Linked DNA regions of Homo sapiens. The protein of the gene in region 3 purifies or fractionates together with the protein of the main gene of each other region. This does not show direct contact. Each region holds a gene or a part of one and is shown on either strand. Other genes may lie near its edges. The genes, in order: ATP7A, ITPR1 and RAB29.

The links.
Region 1: the proteins of RAB29 (region 3) and ATP7A purify together in Homo sapiens (affinity purification with mass spectrometry; 2 studies listed by BioGRID and IntAct, with this or other methods). This does not show direct contact.
Region 2: the proteins of RAB29 (region 3) and ITPR1 purify together in Homo sapiens (affinity purification with mass spectrometry; 2 studies listed by BioGRID and IntAct, with this or other methods). This does not show direct contact.

The regions. Positions count from the first base shown.
Region 1 is NC_000023.11:77,983,632-77,990,750, forward strand, and holds part of ATP7A (copper-transporting ATPase 1), read left to right. Parts: intron 1-4,610; coding exon 4,611-5,100; intron 5,101-5,601; coding exon 5,602-6,327; intron 6,328-7,119. UniProt on the Homo sapiens protein: ATP-driven copper (Cu(+)) ion pump that plays an important role in intracellular copper ion homeostasis.
Region 2 is NC_000003.12:4,678,239-4,685,357, reverse strand, and holds part of ITPR1 (inositol 1,4,5-trisphosphate-gated calcium channel ITPR1), read right to left. Parts: intron 4,806-7,119; coding exon 4,667-4,805; intron 3,995-4,666; coding exon 3,940-3,994; intron 1,973-3,939; coding exon 1,807-1,972; intron 1,731-1,806; coding exon 1,560-1,730; intron 1,078-1,559; coding exon 1,012-1,077; intron 290-1,011; coding exon 152-289; intron 1-151. UniProt on the Homo sapiens protein: Inositol 1,4,5-trisphosphate-gated calcium channel that, upon inositol 1,4,5-trisphosphate binding, mediates calcium release from the endoplasmic reticulum (ER).
Region 3 is NC_000001.11:205,767,382-205,772,497, forward strand, and holds the end of RAB29 (ras-related protein Rab-7L1), read right to left. Parts: coding exon 5,115-5,116; intron 4,273-5,114; coding exon 4,091-4,272; intron 3,474-4,090; coding exon 3,352-3,473; intron 3,073-3,351; coding exon 2,961-3,072; 3' UTR 605-2,960; downstream 1-604. UniProt on the Homo sapiens protein: The small GTPases Rab are key regulators in vesicle trafficking. Essential for maintaining the integrity of the endosome-trans-Golgi network structure.

The DNA.
Region 1 (7,119 bases), on a different chromosome or scaffold from region 3:
GTCCTCCATCTTCAGTCTTTCCTATGAGCTATATTTATAATTTGTAGGCTGTTACATTTATTTTCAGAGGAACTTTTTTTTTTTTCCGAGACGGAGTTTCACTCTCTTGTCCAGGCTGGAGTGCAGTGGCACGACCTCCGCCTCCCGGGTTCAAGCGATTCTTGTGCCTCAGCCTCTTGAGTAGCTGGGATTACAGGCGCCCGCCACCATGCCCAGATAATTTTTACATTTTTAGTAGAGACGGGGTTTCACCATGTTGGCCAGGCTGGTCTCGAACTCCTGGCCTTAAGTGATACACCCACCTCGGCCTCCCAAAGTGCTGGGATTACAGGCATGAGCCACCACTCCGGCCCAGAGGAACGATTGATATAATGGAAAAATAGTTCCTCTGAAAATAAAAATAACAACATTGGTTCCTAATAAAAGATTAAGAGAAAAAGACAAGCTGTCGAAATATTGGAGCAATGTGGGGAATGAGGAAGGTGGGGTAGGGCAGAGAAGGGAAGTTATTTTTGGAGCAGGGGTTGGGGTTAGAGGACATATGAAAGGAGAGCAGCACAGACCCGGAATCAGACTGCCGCCAGCACTTTCCAGCTCTATGGAGTCTGCCTGGTTTTGCTCATCACTGTATCTCTAGCAGCTAGCATAGTGCCGGGCACATAATGGACATTCAATAAATATTTGTTGAATACATAAGTACCTTTTTTTTTTTTTGAGGCGAAGTCTTGTTTTGCCGCCCAGCCTGGAGTGCAGTGGTGCAATGTCGGCTCACTGCAACCTCCACCTCCCGAGGTTCTTCAAGTGATTCTTCAAGTGGTTCTTCAAGTGGTTCTTCAAGTGATTCTCCTGCCTCAGCCTCCCGAGTAGCTGGGATTACAGGCACCCACCACCACGGCCAGCTAATTTTTGTATTTTTGGTAGAGACGGGTTTTCCTGCATTGGCTAGGCTGGCCTCAAACTGTGACCTCAAGTGATCCGCACACCTCAGCCTCCCAAAGTGCTGGGATTACAGGTGTGAGCCACCACGCCCAGCCAATAAGTACCATTTTGACTTCCTGCCCAAAGATTTAGCACCCAGAGCTGTACTGTGAATTTGTTTCCTTTGAGACCTTAGGTTTGAAAAGTCTCTTTGCTATCTAACATTCAGAGGCAAAGTTGAGTGCTGTTACCCCAAAGAGGGATACTTTTGTTTGTGCTGAGTGTGGTTGGTCAGCTTTTAAAACAGAAATAGAATTTACTAAAGGAAGTGTTTTCTCATCTGCAGCATGCAAATAGCGTAGGGTACTTTGACTTCTCTTTTGTGTAGTATTTTATGCATAGTTTTCTTATGCCTTTTATAAATAAAAGATAGGCTAAAGCAGTTAGAAAGTATAGCAAACCATCCAGTGACAAAGTGATTTTTTTTTTTGAGACAGTGTCACTCTGTCACCCAGGCTGGAGTGCAGTGGCACGACTTTGGCTCACTGCAGCCTTGACCTTCAGGCTCAGGCAATCCTCCCACCTCAGCCCCTTGAGCAGCTGGGACTACAGGAGTGTGTCACCATGCCTGGGTAATTTTTGTATTTTTTGTGGAGACAGGGTTCCACCATGTTGCCCAGACTGGTCTGGAATTCCTGAGCTCAAGCTATCTGCCCAACCACCTCAGCATCCCAAAGTGCTAGGATTACAGGCGTGTGCCACCTGGCCTGAGGAAGTGATTTTTGCTTTTAAAATGAGAACAATTTCTGATTGGCTATGTTGGTAAATTGACATTTTTGGGGGGGGTGGGTGCGGGGGAACCAGGTCTTGTTTAAGATGTACCGGATACAACGTATTTAAAGGGCAAGAATCCTTTACGTTGGTACTTTATCAGAAAAAGTATAGTAGTACCTAGAGCAATACCACCCAAGAATGGTCTGTGATGATGGAAATACTGTGTATCCGCCCTGTCTGGTAGGACTAACCACATTGGCCAATGAACACTTGAAATGTGGCTAGTGCAACCGAGGAACTGAATTTTTAATCTTATTTAATAGTTTTTTTTGTTTTAAAAAATAATCATCTAGTAAAATAGACTTTTTTTGGGTATATAGTTCTATGAAATTTTTTTTTAGTTTTGTGAATGTTAACACATGTATAGATTTGTTTAACACCAACACAACCAGGACATAGCGCAGCCCTGTTACCCCTAAAAAACTCCCTCTTGCTACCATTTTCCCTACCTCTAACCCCTGGAAACCACTGTTCTGTTCTCCATCTTCCCCTTTAGTTGGAAAGTTTAAATTATTTACAGTCATTTTCTTAACCCTAAAATCACCTCAGGGGAGGGAAATTAAAGTTTAAAAGAGGCCTTCTTTAAAAACACAAGGACACAAAAGCCTTCATTTGATGGTGGCTACTCTTATATTGCATGTCTTTCAATACTATATGTCTCAACTATACGTGGTTTGACTATTCTGCATTTTTTTTTCATGGAAAATGTTATATAGTATTATCCAAAACCAAATATAATTTATTTCCCCACTTCTGTTTTGGATCATTTATGCTAGTGATTTCCTCCATCCCTAAGAACCAGCTAGCCAACTAGAATTATCAGAGTCTTAGAAACTTTCCATGCCATGGGTACATTTCACATTTTCACCCAAATACACAGTCATCAATTATCAAGCTAAAGGAAGAAATAAAAATATGTTCATTAAAATAAGTGAAAGATTTAACTATTGTAGACAATTTAAAGAGAGATTTTCTATGCTGAATTACTTTTAATTATAATTTTGAGTTTTTATTTTATAGAGCAAAGCTTTTCACTAGAAATTAATAACACCTATATTTAACTGCTTTTTTGAATATTAATATCCTATGGCCATCTCAAAAATCAATAGGTCCAGCACTGAATTTATCATCTCTCCTTTCCCTCCACTTTAACCTCTTAATTTCCTCCTGATTTCCTCCTCTCTTTCTGATATCAGTTAATGACGCCACCATCTATCTATCCACTGGCCCAAGCCAGATACCTTTAAGTCATCCTAGTCGTCTCCTTTATCCTATACATCTTGTTAGGAGGCCCTACCCTCCTGAATGTATCTTGGAGCTGCCTCTTTTATCTTTGCCCCCAGTATTCATGTCTTAATTCAGACCCTCTATTGCACTACTTTTGCAATTGCAGTAGCCTCCTAGCTGATAGTCCTCCCTCCTGTATCACTCCACCCTACTACACTATCATCTTCCACACTGCCTCCAGAATGATCCTTCTCTAAAATGAAAATCTAATCACATAATTCTCTGCTTAACTTTTCCATGGCTTCCTATTACCTATAGGATAAATCACAACCATTATTGGCATATAGAACCCCATAATAGAGCAGTTGCCTAATTTTCAAGCCTCTTATCTTTCTCTACTTTTTTGTTTCCATTCATCTGGAATTCTCTGCCTCATATATCCTTGCTGATTCCTGTTTGTCCTTTAACATTCAGGTATTATCTCTCCTAAGAATACTTTTCTGACCCATATTCCCAGGGATGAATGGGTATCCCTTTTCTGTATTCTCTGTCCTATTGTTCCTGTGACATGTTCAGCTTTGTATCCTGAGAATCCCAGTTCCTGACGCACATAATAAGTGCTCAATAAATATTAGTTGCTCAATGTTTAATTTTATATAATTCACTGCTGTTACGAAGAACTTTCCTATTTACTCGTATGATCCTTGTAATAGCCCTGGAAGATAATAGGGCATATTTTCTCATTTTTCAGATGGTAGAACTAATGGGTGTGGTTAGCTAATAAGTGGAGAATTGATGCTGGAACTTAAATCTTCTGACTCCCAACCCAGTATTTGTGTGTGTGTGTGTGTGTGTGTGTGTGTGTGTGTGTGTGTGTCTTCATCATGAATCTTTGTAAGATGTCAGCCAAAGAGATGCAATCATGACAGTAGTTAAATTATATGCAGTAACTAAGCTACAAGAATATAATCATTGTTTTATAATCTAATTGGGCAAAACAATAAAGATGTTCTTATTTTGAACAAAATTAATAGTATGCTCTAGTGACTTAGGGGGATATAGGAGTATATGCTATAAAATCCTATGAATACTGCCTTCACTCATAAACCGGCAGGCTTATACTTTTCTTGCCAACAAAGTTATCCTAATTGAACATTATTTTTATTTTTTTAAATTGACATATAATAGTTATACATATTTTTAGGAAATTGGACATTTTAAAATATTAAACTTCATATTACCTTTTATTTTTCTGTAGCTGATCCTGTTTCATGTATAACCTTTTCAGTTGGTAGAGTGTGAAGTGTTGGAGTAATTTATGAAAGGAATGGAAGGAAAGAGTAGTTTGTACTCTGTTGTGAAATTCTTGGGTGTGTTTGTCAATATACATGTTTCAAATGCCTGATAGGTACCACAGTCACATATGTCTGCATATATAACTTTACCATTCTTGTAGGTACACAAGACATTTTATGTTTCTTTCTAACAAGAAGAGTAAAAATGAAAACTAATAGGGAAACTCCATTAGATTGAGTTGTCTCACTCTTCTTGAATGTGGTGTGATGATTATTATTTTAAATCCTGTGTGATAGAATTTAATTAAACTGACTTTTGGAATTTCCTTCCAAAAGGTATCACTGGAAGAAAAAAATGCAACTATTATTTATGACCCTAAACTACAGACTCCAAAGACCCTACAGGAAGCTATTGATGACATGGGCTTTGATGCTGTTATCCATAATCCTGACCCTCTCCCTGTTTTAACTGACACCTTGTTTCTGACTGTTACGGCGTCACTGACTTTGCCATGGGACCATATCCAAAGCACATTGCTGAAGACCAAGGGTGTGACAGACATTAAAATTTACCCTCAGAAAAGAACTGTAGCAGTGACAATAATCCCTTCTATAGTGAATGCCAATCAGATAAAAGAGCTGGTTCCAGAACTCAGTTTAGATACTGGGACACTGGAGAAAAAGTCAGGAGCTTGTGAAGATCATAGTATGGCTCAAGCTGGTGAAGTCGTGCTGAAGATGAAAGTGGAAGGGATGACCTGCCATTCATGTACTAGCACTATTGAAGGAAAAATTGGGAAACTGCAAGGTGTTCAGCGAATTAAAGGTAATGTGTCTGGTGTTGATTGTTTTGTAAGGCTTAGGTGTCTGTTTTGATCTTTTAACTTTTTGCTTTCTTCTTAAGCATGAGTTTTGAATCCATGAGACTAGAGTGCTTGCTGTATCATTGAGGTACAGCATATTCCCAGGATTAAAAGTTAATGATTATAATTAAAGGTTACATAAACCTTGAACTGAAGAAAAGGCAGCTGGGTTGGCAATTCATGGAATTCAAGGTTCTTAACACAACATGACTAGGGTACTCTTTACCTCTAATATATTTTACTTAGGCATGGAGAAACTTGGAGACCATAGCTACAGTGGTCATATCTCTTACTTGTTTCTAGTCTATGCCAATAACATTTTCTGAAAAGAAAAAAAATTAAGAAAATATGATGACAAGAATGAGAGAGAAACAATTATTTGTGGTTATTGATTTAGAAAACAGAATGTTTTCTGAAGTAGCCCAGGAATAACTGAATTAATTATATTTCTTTTTATTAACTAGTCTCCCTGGACAATCAAGAAGCTACTATTGTTTATCAACCTCATCTTATCTCAGTAGAGGAAATGAAAAAGCAGATTGAAGCTATGGGCTTTCCAGCATTTGTCAAAAAGCAGCCCAAGTACCTCAAATTGGGAGCTATTGATGTAGAACGTCTAAAGAACACACCAGTTAAATCCTCAGAAGGGTCACAGCAAAGGAGTCCATCATATACCAATGATTCAACAGCCACTTTCATCATTGATGGCATGCATTGTAAATCATGTGTGTCAAATATTGAAAGTACTTTATCTGCACTCCAATATGTAAGCAGCATAGTAGTTTCTTTAGAGAATAGGTCTGCCATTGTGAAGTATAATGCAAGCTCAGTCACTCCAGAATCCCTGAGAAAAGCAATAGAGGCTGTATCACCGGGGCTATATAGAGTTAGTATCACAAGTGAAGTTGAGAGTACCTCAAACTCTCCCTCCAGCTCATCTCTTCAGAAGATTCCTTTGAATGTAGTTAGCCAGCCTCTGACACAAGAAACTGTGATAAACATTGATGGCATGACTTGTAATTCCTGTGTGCAGTCTATTGAGGGTGTCATATCAAAAAAGCCAGGTGTAAAATCCATACGAGTCTCCCTTGCAAATAGCAATGGGACTGTTGAGTATGATCCTCTACTAACCTCTCCAGAAACGTTGAGAGGAGCAATAGAAGACATGGGATTTGATGCTACCTTGTCAGGTAATTATCATTTTTTCTTTGATTACCCTAATGTTCTTTTACTTCCATTTTGCTGCTTCTTTTGGCATTTATCAATGAGAAATGATTCATAGGCACTGTAATTCCACTTTTGCAAATATGTCCTATGGAGGTAGCCAGCAGTATATACAAAGATGCATAAGGATGTTTGTATAATTGCTTATGATATTTAAAAACTGGAAACAATAACTCGTGGTGCAACAATAAATAACTCATGATGAAATGCTATGAAGTCATAAAACATTATGGTATTAAAGATAATTAATGCCACAGGAAGGTGTCTGAGGTATTTTGTTAAATGAAAAAAAGCTGAAAAGCTATATATACAATGTGATCAAAATTTTATAAAGAAATGTATCTGAATTTACGCCATGTATATATTGTTTATGTATATGAATAAGATTCCTGGTAGGATATGAACCAAAATTTTAACAGTGATTATCTTTGGGTGGTAGGATAAATGTGATTTTTGTTTCCATTGTGTTTCCTGGTTTTATAAGTTGTTTTTACAATAAGAATGTATGTATGTAGCTATGTATTTATATAATGGGGGAAGCCAGTGCTCTTTTAAAAACAAAAGTAGTTGAAATAAATAATAGGATTTTAACTATAATTTTATATTTAGGCATTCAAATTAAACTGACTCCAGAGCTGTCCCAAAGTTTTCGTATTTCCTGACAGCTCTTACCTTTGAACTGAAACAAAAAATGTATATTCAATGGAATTTAATTATGTGAAATTGTTCTTTTGAACCAGAATTGAACCTGGCCTTGA
Region 2 (7,119 bases), on a different chromosome or scaffold from region 3:
GTTTCATATCAATACCTGAAATTGCTTTGTAGTCACAATAGTCACACTGGATGCATTTCTTCACTAACAATATCCAGATGTGAAGAGTTTGGGGAAACCCAGGGATCCGCCCCATCCTGAGAGCAGCTGCTGTGCATGAGGCACCGCTCACCTTCTCATAGGGAATCTGCAGCAGCTCCAGCACCACGGCGTGCGCGCCCATGTTCCGGAGCAGACGCTGTTGCTGCTTCCTGCTCTTTCTCACTGAGGCACTCTCTTGAACACAGAGTTTGCTAAGCCGAATCAAAATCTAGTAGAATGAAAGAAATCAGTCTCAGAAAACTAGGAACTATAGCTGGAAAAAGATTGCAGAGGGTGGTGGCGGGCAGGGAGGCAAAGGGGATTATAATGCATTAAAAACGTAAAACAAAATTCCTTCAGTATGTGGCATTTCTGTTGACTCCATCAAGCCAAATCCATAAGACTAAGGTCACGTCTTCCAGAATAAGCAGGGGATTATGGCTTCAACAACAAGTGGGACAGTTTCAGAGATATCGCTTAAAATGGAATGACCTGGCATCATTGCCGAGACCCTGGGAAGAGTTTGCTCTGGGGTAAAACACACAAAGCTCCCAGCCTCCCAACTTTGAACCAGCGTACGCAAAGGTTTCTAAAAAACTACAGCTCTCAGTGGGGACACTGTGTACCAGGCACTTAGATGACTCCCTGACAGTATTCTCAATTAGTCCTTCCTTCAATTGTAAAGCTTCAGAAATATGCGGTGCCTACGAAAGGTTGCACCTACAAAAGGTGAGGAAGCTGAGGACAAAAATAATAAGTAGAAGAGCTGGGTGTGGAGCCCAGATCTGATGCCAAAACCCATGAGCTTAACCTCTGAGCTCTACTTTCTCCCTGTTAAACCACATGAAGAAAAAAGCTCAAATGTGTGTACCTTCAACTTGACTATCACAAACTAAAGCTCCTTAGAGAATTCATAAAGAAAGGAAAAATGGTGGTGGGGGAGGAGCTTACCTCTTTGACCACTCTGTAGTTGTAGCTGCTGGTGCTTTCATGCTTTTGTGGCTTGTTATTTCCCTCCTAGAAACCAAAGTGAACACAAGTGTGATCTGTACAACTCTTGGGCTACTGTCAGTTTTTTACAGTTAGCATCGACCTTTAGGAAAGAAAGGGAGTTCTATACTGTTTTACAATAGTCATGCTGGGCTTATGCCCCAGTCATCTACCTACTTGCTATGGGTTTCCTTGGGAAGGGATAGTAGTGGGCTGGGCCATGCCTAGAGAACAGGTCAATTCCCAAGTGGGTCTGTAAGGGAAACCTGGTGCTAATTCACTCAATATCGCAGTCTCTTCTACATGGTCCAAGGCTGCACAGGAGACATAGCTAAACTTTGATTCGTAGCTTATTTCCTAGGCAAACAGCTTGTGATCTTGGTGACTTAACAAGCAGATCTCTTGAAAATAAATCCTATCACATTTATACCTAAAACCAGAAGAGGATGCTCCCTAGTTTCGAGAAGCCCATCCATCCACTTTGGCAGCATAACTTGTGTTTCACTCACCTCCGTTTTCTTATGTTCATTTTCTCCAGATGCACCATCCATAGTCTCATCGGGGCCCTGCCCTTTGTACACCCAAAGCTCTGACTTTTCCACGATGGACCTCAGTTGATCCAAGTCTTGTTTGATCTGTTTGTAGTTGTCCACATCTTGGCTGGTAACCAGCAGTTGAACCTTAATGAACGCAATCCGTTAGGTGCACACAACAGCTTCTTGGACAGACAACACACACGTGGGTGACCTGAGCTACCTGTTTGAAGGCCTGGAGCACCTCCTGCCTCTGGCTGAAGTGCCGGAAGAGGAGCTGCAGGGCCCCTGACACCAGGGGTGGGTAGTCATGCATCGTCAAGTGGAGCAGGACACGGAGAAAGGTTCTGCCGCCGTGGTCATCCAAGTCCAGTGGGGTGTTCTCCTCACTAAAGGAGCACAAGGTGGGGAAAGGCCAAATGAATGACAAATGCCTCCTCTCACGCCCCTTGGGCCCAGATGCACCTAACCTAGTTGCATTTCTAGCACTGTGATCTCCAGACATGCAATTTCACTTTTCATTAGCTCCTTTAACAATACAGCCTTGCTTCATCTTCAACTATATTATGAGGTGAGGGGACAAGGAAGATGTCATATTAAAAGATAAGTCAAATTTTAAGCCAAAGTGACAAGACTAGCATTAGATTCTCAACATCTACATAGGGTGTTCTTCTGCTGGGCTTCGTCTGTGGTCTGAGAACTGCAAGAGGATGTGTTTCTCCTAAGTTATTAGTTTATGTATTTAGTTTTTAGAGATGAGGTCTTGCTATGTTGCCCAGGCTGAATTCAAACTCCTATGCTCAAATGATCCTCCTGCCTTAGCATACTGAGTAGCTGGGACTATAGGAATGCACTACCATGCCTGACTATATTTAAATATTAATAAGCATATCCTAGATCAAATGGCAGACTACTCCATAACTGAGCACTGCTAGTCAATTATTGGGTCTGCACCTATATTGGGTTTAGAGTCAAATGAATGACAAATGGTGGAAACTTCCTGGTTGCTGGCTAATAAGAAAAGCACAGAGAAGACTTATAAATACTGTATTCATGCTATGTATTCCAAAAAGGTGTGAAGGTTTCAATGCTGTTCACTATGAGGAAAATGGCGGGAGAGCTGAGTGATCACACAGCACATGGAACCTGTATTATGCTAAACTCACAATACCATGTTTAAGTTTCAGAAAAACATCTTCCATCATAGTACATAATGTTGCTAATTCAAATTTCACAGGTTTTATATTAAGCATTGAGGTAGACTATTAACACTGGTGGGCCCCAACAGAGTGTTCAAACCCTTATGTAGTCCCCTCCCACACTGACAATGAGCTTGGCCATGGGATTTGCTTGAACAATAAGATATTAGGAGATGCAATGCAAGCAGAGGCCCAATTAGCACTTGCATACTGTTGGCTTGTCCTCTTAGAACATTTGCTTTTTGAGTCAGCCACCGTGCTGTAAAGAAGCCCAAGCTATCCACATGGACAGAGAGAGAAAGAAGTTCTGGCCTTGCAGGCATCTCTGCTATAGTGCCAGAAATGTGAATAATCCAACTTGGAGGTGCCAGCCCCAGTTACCACCTCACTACAGTATGACAGACCCAACAGTGACCACCAGCAGAAGAACCATCCAGCTTAATCAAGCCACAGGACTGTAAGAAGTATTAATAAAATGGTGGTGGTTTGAATCCTTAAGTTTTTTGGAGTAATATGTTATAAAGCAATAATCAAACCAAGTGTGCTAATTATAAGAACTATGTGCATATGGTGTTTATACCAAATTTTATACTTGGAGGTATAAGAGTTCCATAATTATAATAATGTCTTAAGTCAAAATTGACCAGTGCGGTTTTTTTTTAAAGGGGTTCATACATTAATATTAGGAACAATGAAAGACCAGATTTTGCTTTCTTTGTTGCATAGCCTGTAAGGAGCTCAGGGATAAAATTGTAGCCCAGCAGCAGCAGCAGGACATGATCTTACTAACTTCACTCTGTTTTGAGCCCCTCTCTCTTTCTATTCTTCTTTTGATTGCATTTCCTCACTATGTAAAAATAATCTTGTAATGTAGGTATTTTGAGAAATCTCCTTAAATCCTTTCTGTCCTAGGTGGGACACACACACACACACACACACACACACACACACTTTCTCTCTCTCTCTCTCTCACTCTCTCTCTCCTCCCAATCAAGCCAACCAAGTTAACTCTGACTTGAGTACTAACAGTTCCAAAGATAGCACCAAAACAACCTAAGCCCAGAGACTAAATATTTACTAACATAATAAAGGGAAGGCCTCTGAGAGCTCTGGAAGAGCAGCCTTCCCTACAAAACAGTAACTGAAAATATACTTTCCTTCCTCCAAAGATGCCTTCTGCTTGTTCTTCAATGTGTTCAAAGTCAAGAGCACCTGAAAAGTTAGAACATACCACTTCAGATGCAGGAAGGTCTGCAAACATGCTGCTGGTGAACTCATCCATAAGTTTTGCAGGGTAAAGCTGTTGAGTTAACCCCAAATCTCCCAGAACATTATATTGCAAAGCTATGCAGAGTGACTAACCCAGATGACATTAACCACATATTCCACATTCCTGCCCCTTCCTCCCTCACTGCATGGTCCCCTGGTAAAGGACAGCAATGATCTCACTCATGGAAGCTTGGGCTTGGTAGATGGGATTATTTCTACTCCTACCATCTCCCGTCACCACTAGTTCCTGGGCAGGGAAAAACTTCCAAAGTGAGTAAAAGCTGCTAGTGGTCAAGAAGTCTCCTGGAGAGTTTTTTGTTACTGTTTTTATTTTGGTATTTTTGCGGGGGAGGTGGGTAGCCACAATGCTGGAAACCTCAACTGTCTCATCACTAAGACACTCCCAGATGGAAGGAAACAAGATCCAACCCAGAAGGAATCTGGGCTCTATCAATTATTCACTTGCTCAAAAAGAGTAACTGCCAGGATGATGCCCTGGTGCAATAATCCTCAAAACCATTTTCACCCTTTTTCTAGAAGATACTGTTTGCTCTCCCCATTTTCCTTAGAGCCAGGTCCCATTCTATGGCTGAAATTCCATTCTGAATCACTAACCTGGTACATTACTTGGCCCTTCTTGGCTGCTGTTTCCGGAGGATGTTTCTGAAGTCTGGGAATTGCTTTCATCAAACTCTCGCTTAAATATACACAGGAGGCAGGAGATCCTATAATCCAACCTCACATTCAAAATAAACTAAAGATTCAAGTGGAAATGGAAACAGATTGGTTACATTAACATACCATCTTGACTCTGCCAAGCCACCACACACTGGCGGGGCCTGGTATCAGCTGCATCAATTACCTTAAGCACTAAGTGAGCCAAGTATTTGGCTTAGATTTCAACAGTCATTTTAACAACAGCAGACTTCCATGGGGCATATGAAGTCTGCCCATAGCACCTTAGCCTCTAGTGTAAGCTTCAGCATCCTGGCAATTAATTTAACAATTGGAACACTAAATCACTCACTCCTGGCTCCATAAATGGAGTCTATAAAACAAGACTCCATTTCAGTAAGTATTGAATGTCAACTCTGGGCCTAACACTGAAAAGAGTGAAGTTGCCTGCTTTGGATTTAAGAGAATTAACAAAAAAAAATTTGTTTTTTACTATGGAAAATTAGCTTGGTTCCTATTTCCTGTTTCTGGTTGTTTCCCCTGGTTTGGGTACAAACCCTTGGACACCCTCTTCTTTTGCCTCCTGTATTCCCTCACCCTTTATTCCAACACAGGGTCACTTTTCCCAGGATTGCTGCTAGAACCAAAAAGAAAGATTGAGCAGCTGACATCATGTAGGGATCTCACTCACGTTCTTCCTTCCGTTCTCCCCTTGTCTCTGCTTAGCCTCCCAGCAACCTTTCCCAGTCCAGTGGCCATCACCTCTTCCAGAGGGAGATAGGTCTCTGGCCTGCCTCCATGCTCTCAGTGTATGTGTCCTACAGACTGTTGGACATCCTATTTGCTATCTTCCCAGGGCCTCAAACTCAGTGTTTCACAAAAGTAACTGCGATGGTTAATTTTATATGCCAACTTGACTGGGTTCAAGGACACCTAGACAGCTTGTACAACTTTATTTCCGGGTAAATCTATGAGGGGGTTTCCAGAATGGACTGGCATTTGAATCAGTGAGCTGAGTAAAGAAGATCCGCTCTCACCCAGTGTGAGTGGGCACCATCCAATCCACGGAGGGCCTGGATAGAGCAAACAGGTGGAGGAAGACCGAATCCACCTGTTCTGGAGCTGGGACACTCATCTTCTCCTGCCCATCAGAGCTCCAGGTTCTCCGGCTTTTGGCCTCAGACTGAGAGTTACACCTTCAGCTCCCCTGGTTCTCAGCCTTGGGACTCAGGCTGAATCACACCACTGGCTTTCCCGGGACACAGCTTGCTGTGGCAGACTGGGGGACTTCTCGGCCTCCGTAACTGCGTGAGGCCAATTCCCATAATAAACCCCCTCTTGTCTATCTGTATGTATCCTATTTGTTCTGTTTCTCTGGAGAGCGCTAACACACTAACATTGTCAGTCTTGCCTTCATCTACTTTCTGCCTGGGTTTCCTCAACCTCAGTCAGTTGCCTGATCATCAGCGCCTCCTTCCTGGACACACATCTAATCAGAGACTAAGTCCTGGTGGTTCTCCATTTACCGCTTCTCATAGAGTTCTCCCCTACTGCCGTTTCTCCCTGCTCAAGGCCTCATTATCTCCTGCCTGTTCCATTTACAGAACCAAATTCACCAAATCAGCCTCCTAACCACTTGTTCTTATGTTAAGCTCCCGCTTGAAGACTTTCAAAGGCTCAACAGAGAATAAGCCTTAGCATTTTAGACACCCAAAGCTCTGTGCAGTGTGGCTTGGTCCTCCTTTCCAAACTCACTTCTGACAACTTCCCCTCAGCACACTCTATGTCTCTGCTCAGCAAGAACTGCCCACTGACCTGCATCCCATGGTACTCGGCTTCAGGCTGCTCCATCCACCTGAGAACGGGCCCTTGTTTCTCCATGTACAAAGCCCATGCACCTTAAAGGCTCAGATGAAACCCTACCTCCTCCATCAACCCTTCTCTGATCTTTACCATGTGGAGTCACATGACCCCACTCCCGGACTCCAGTCTCAGAAGAACTTTCTGGTGGTTTTATTTCCACATCCACGCAGCTTCATCATACCTTATTCTCCCATCAGACTATAAACCCCTGTGGATGGAGCCCCTGTTCGAATCATTTTTGCATTCCTCACAGTGCACATGGTAGGGAGTCAATAAGTACCCGTGGAAAGAATGACTCAATCGACCAATCCTTCTTAGGTCACCACGGTGAGTGGACCTCAAGATGTGACCAAGTTTTGCACTGCGTCGTTTCTGATAAACGTCCAAGACACCACTTTGGAACACATGGACCATGGCCTGCAAATTTTATATGTATATTTTGTCTCGACAAAAAAAATTGAAAATAAAAGTAAAAATAAAATTTATTAAAAAATAAAGTTTTAAAAAAGGAATCTTTCTCTACTGTTGCT
Region 3 (5,116 bases):
ACCAGTTGGGAGAGAATATCCAGAAGGGCTGGCTGGCTGGCCAGCCTCTAACAATGCTTGAAAAGGCAGGTAAATCCTGAGTCAGCAAATGGGAAAAGCAAGCACATTCAGTTTTTCAAAAAGGTCACGTTTCCAAGTAGTATTTGGCATGTTCCATCAAGTACTGAATTGGTACTAGGCAGATGGATCTAAGCAATTGGTATTAGTAAGTTAACAGGTAAACAGAATAATATTTACCTTCATTTTAAAAGAAGGTATTTAACCACATTTCTCACTTGTAAGTGGGAGGTAAACATTGGGCACACACATAAAGATGGGAACAACAGACACTGGAGACTCCCAAAAGTGGGGAGAGAGGGAGTAAGCGTTGAAAAAGTGCCGACTGGGTGCTATGTTCACTACTTGGGAGACAGGCTAAGCAGAAACCCAAGCTTTAGCATCACACAATATATCCATGTAACAAACTTGCACACGTACCCCTTGAATTGAAAATTTAGAAAAAGGTATTTAAAAAATAAAGTCTCCATTTCCGCAATCCTCTTGAGCTATCAGTATAAAACAGCACTTTGACAAACTCACATTAAAGGCCAATAACCACCATGAATACAAGACTTAGTTCTCATTTATTTGTGATTTTGCAGGTGTTCAAACCAATGAATGAAAATCAATTATCTCTTCATATCAATGAAATTCACTATTTCACTATTATCTTCAGAATCATAGTGATCAAAACCCTACCTGAAAATGGTAATACAAAAGAGAACTATTAATACAAGGTTTCAGAAGACTGTGCAAGTTAAAATAATTGGCATTAAAACGACACACAACAAACCACCGAAGGTTTGGTCCCTTTTCTCTCTGATATGTGGCCTCTGATCTCTTTCTTAGGGCAGTGGTTTTCAACGTCTGTGTAGCAGAATCACCTGAAAAGCTAACAGAATATATAGAAACCCAGGATTTGTATTTGTATTTAAATGTAAATACAAAAGGTCTGGGTCTCTGTATCTTTACAAAGTTCTCCAGCAATGGTTTCCAAACCAGGCTTATCACAATCACCAGGGAAGCTCTGAAAACAACAACACATTCCTAGGCTTCATCCCTAGAAATTCTGATTCAGTAGGTTTGAGGTCGGGACCCAAAAATCTTTTTCTTTTTGTTTTTTTTTTTTGGAGATGGAGTTTCACTCTTGTTGCCCAGGCTGAAGCGCAATGGTGTGATCTCAGCTCACTGCAACCTCTAACTCCCAGGTTCAAGCGATTCTCCTGCCTCAGTCTCCCAAGTAGCTGGGATTACAGGTGCCCGCCACCACGCCCAGCTAATTTTTCTTATTTTTAGTAGAGACGGGGTTTCAGTATGTTGGCCAGGTTGATCTTGAACTCCTGACCTCAGGCGATCCACCTGCCTCAGCCTCCCAAAGTGCTGGGATTACAGGTGTGAGCCACCACGGCTGGCTCAGGACCCAAAAATCTTAAAACATTTTTAAAAAATTTTAACAAACTTCCCAGGTATTCCCGACCAGCCAGATTTGGGAACCACTGACTTAGGACACTTATTTAAGGTCTATCACAGAACTTCAGGCCTCAGAGTTTAGTAAGAATATCGATAACTTTGGGTAGGTTATAAATCACCATCCTAGAGATAATTTAACAAATTAAATGGTCTAGTAGTGATTTGATACTAAAAAGCCCTGCCCAATTTAGTACTTAAATTACCTAATGATTTTCTGTCTATCTACTTTCCTCCCCCAGGCTAGGACCTGCACATAATATGTTTCCTATGACTAAGTGCCTACGTGTTCACAAAGTTGCCCCAGTGGAGGTTGTTAACTTCTCTCTTTTCTTCTTCCATTCAGATTCCCAAAGCTGTGAGGAGCAGACCTATTTCGAAGCATCACAGCCAGCTGATGTCACTTGCAGTATTATGCATTAAGACATCAACCCAGAAACCTGCAAATGGGAGACACTAGGCAATCCTATCATGAGGATTAAGCTCTTTGTGGAAGAAAATGCTTTCATTGCATGAGATAGGTAGTTTAAAAATGACTATTCTTTTTTCTTTTTTTTTTGAGACGGAGTCCTTCTCTGTCACCCAGGCTGAAGTGCGGTGGCATGATCTCGGTTCACTGCAACCTCTGCCTCCCAGTCTCAAGCGATTCTCCCACCTCAGTCTCCAGAGTAGCTGGGATTACAGACACGTGCCATCACGCCTGGCTAATTTTTGTACTTTTAGTAGAGACGGGGTTTTGCCATGCTGACCAGGTTGGTCTCGAATTCCTGGCCTCATGTGATCCGCCTGCCTTGGCCTCCCCAAGTGCTGGGATTACAGGCATGAGCCACCATGCCCGGCCAAAAAACTTGACTATTCTTGATGCCAAGACAAGAGAAACTTAATTATGACGTTAGAAGTTTCAAAAATACAGTGACTTCTGGGACACTTCTAGTAGCCAAAAATCCACAGATGCCCAGACCCCCTCCTTCTGCATTCCAGAATCAGATGTTTACATTCCAAGACAGAAAGAATCTGAAACAACGGCCTACAAGAAATTTGGGAAATGACATTTGATCTCATTTTCCTCTCAATTGGAAGTCATGATATCAATGAATATCAAATGGAAAAATAAGCTCAGAAGTAGGTGAGAATTATGATCTCTAAAACGCAGGTGCTGATTTCTAATCCTTCTCATAAAATTCCGGATCACAAATTGAGGGCTGATGAGAAGATCTTACACCGAAGGCACTAACTGGCACTAATGTGAGCCAGCAACATGTGAAAGGCTAATCCAGGAGATGCAGAAATGCACATGGGTTCCAGGTGTCTTTTCTAAGTGACAATGGGCCTCCTTACTGGACAGTAGTCAGGAGACAATTCAAATGTACTTAATAAAATTGTCAGGTGGGCAACCAAAGGGAAGAGACTTAAAAGACCTCCCAGAACTGGGATGGAAAATAAGCCAAACACTACTAGCAGCAGGACCAGCTGGAGGACTTGGTTTGTAGATTGATGTAGTCCCCTTGGGTGGACAAAGACATGATATCTTCTGTGGAATTTCTCATCATCTTTTCAATGAGGACTCTAAAAGACAAAAAATAAGCCTGAGAAGCTTATTTTGGAGGAAAAGCAGAAATGGCAGATGTAGTCTGACTTATCATCAGAGAGTATTTGGTAAAGCCAGAAGGTTTAAATGCCCCTTTGTCCCCAGTTATCTCAGGAAAGACAGTATCCCTGACCTTTAGGGGCTAGCATTCCAATGGCTCAGTCTGTCATTGTTGGCTCAGAAATAAGAAAAGAGGGTCCACAGGGCCACAGTGGAAGATGGATACATCTGCATGCCTATCAGCATGAGCTACTTACCTCATAGCCTCATTAATATTTTTGTTCTCCTTGACTGATGTTTCTGTCCAACCTGTGAAACCGTTCTCTTTACTGAACCGGTCAATCTGGTCCCGGCTCACTGCCCAAGGGGACAGATCACACTAGCAAAGAGAAAAAATAAAAGGCAGTATCATAAACTTCCTGCAACTAAGAAAGAATATGGCTCAGATACTGTGGATTTTAAACATATTTCCACCAATGGATAAGAACACCAGCATCGGAAATCTATAATCAACATTCTTCCCAAAGAAAGTCTCACCCTTGGCTGGGCGCAGTGGCTCACGCCTGTAATCCCAGCACTTTGGGAGGCTGAGGCGGGCAGATCATGAGGTCAGGAGAGCGAGACCATCCTGGCTAACACAATGAAACCCAGTCTCTACTAAAAATACAAAAAAATTAGCTGGGTGTGGTGGTGGGCACCTGTAGTCCCAGCTACTCGGGAGGCTGAGGCAAGAGAATGGCGTGAACCTGGGAGGCAGAGCTGGCAGTGAGCCGAGATCGCGCCACTGCACTCCAGCCTGAGCAACAGAGCGAGACTCCGTCTCAAAAAAAAAAAAAAGAAAGAAAGTCTCACTCACCCTCAACATCCTTTGAAGGAGGTAGAGATGATTTTGCCAACTTAAGAAGGGGAAATGGATGCCCAGAATCAGAGAGCATTTTACTTCCTTTCTAACCACAGATAGAGGCTAGGGACCATTTTCTGAGATTGGCCACATACCTTGTTGGCCAAGAGCAGGCAGGGCACCGGCTCTCCATTGGGTAGTGTGAGCTTGCTGTCTAGGTCCTGTTTCCACCTCTGGCTGTTGCTGAAGGTAGTGGCATTGGTAACGTCAAACATAATAACACAGGCAGAGGCATCCCGATAATACAATCGTGTCATAGAGGTGAAGCGCTCCTGCCCTGGGGAGAAAGGGGAGAGTTCTCAAGGTGACCCAAGAGCCGGCCTCTCCCCATTCCTTGTAGAAGAGGGCAGTAAGCATATGTGTCAGATGGGGCCACTCACTTTCCCCCTCTGACTCTTGGTTTTCTATCCCATAAAGGGATAATGAAGCCCAATTATTTCCAAGGCAGATTCCGCACCCAGATTGCTCCAGTCCAAATCCCTGCTCTGCTGCATACTATTTGACTTCGGGCAAATCAAGCTCTCAGTGCTTCAGATTTCTCATTTGTAAAGTGAAGATAAAAGCAGTCGCTTTTTTTTTTTTTTTTTGAAACAGTTTCCTGCACTCCTGTTGCCCAGGCTGGAGTGCAGTGGTGCCATCTAGGCTCACTGCAACCTCCACCTCCCAGGTTCAAGCAATTCTCCAAAAGCAGTAGCTTTTATGATAGGGTTGATGTGAGGATTAATGAGTCAGTGAATTTAAAATACTTAGAAGAATGCTTGGCACATAGTAAGGATTCACTATTTTTACTGTATCTATTTTCTGGGGATCTTGTTTTTCACCAAGGTCAGCCTTAAACCTAGAAAAAGCACCCTCCCCTGCTGTGGGAGTGTCCACCTATAGTCTGGACAATCCACCACCTTGCCAGCCCCTCCATCCACATAGAGACTGCTCCAGATCTATTCAGGGCAAAACATCTACAAAAGCTCTGCACCTATTCAGCTCATGTGTCCTCAGAGCAGCTCAATCATTCCAGCTTCAGAAAAACAATTTCTGGCTTTGCTGCCCCATTTTTTCCTCAGAGCTTTCTAGTTAAATCAAAATTTCTTCCCTTGTTCCTATCTAGCCCTCCCACTTTACCT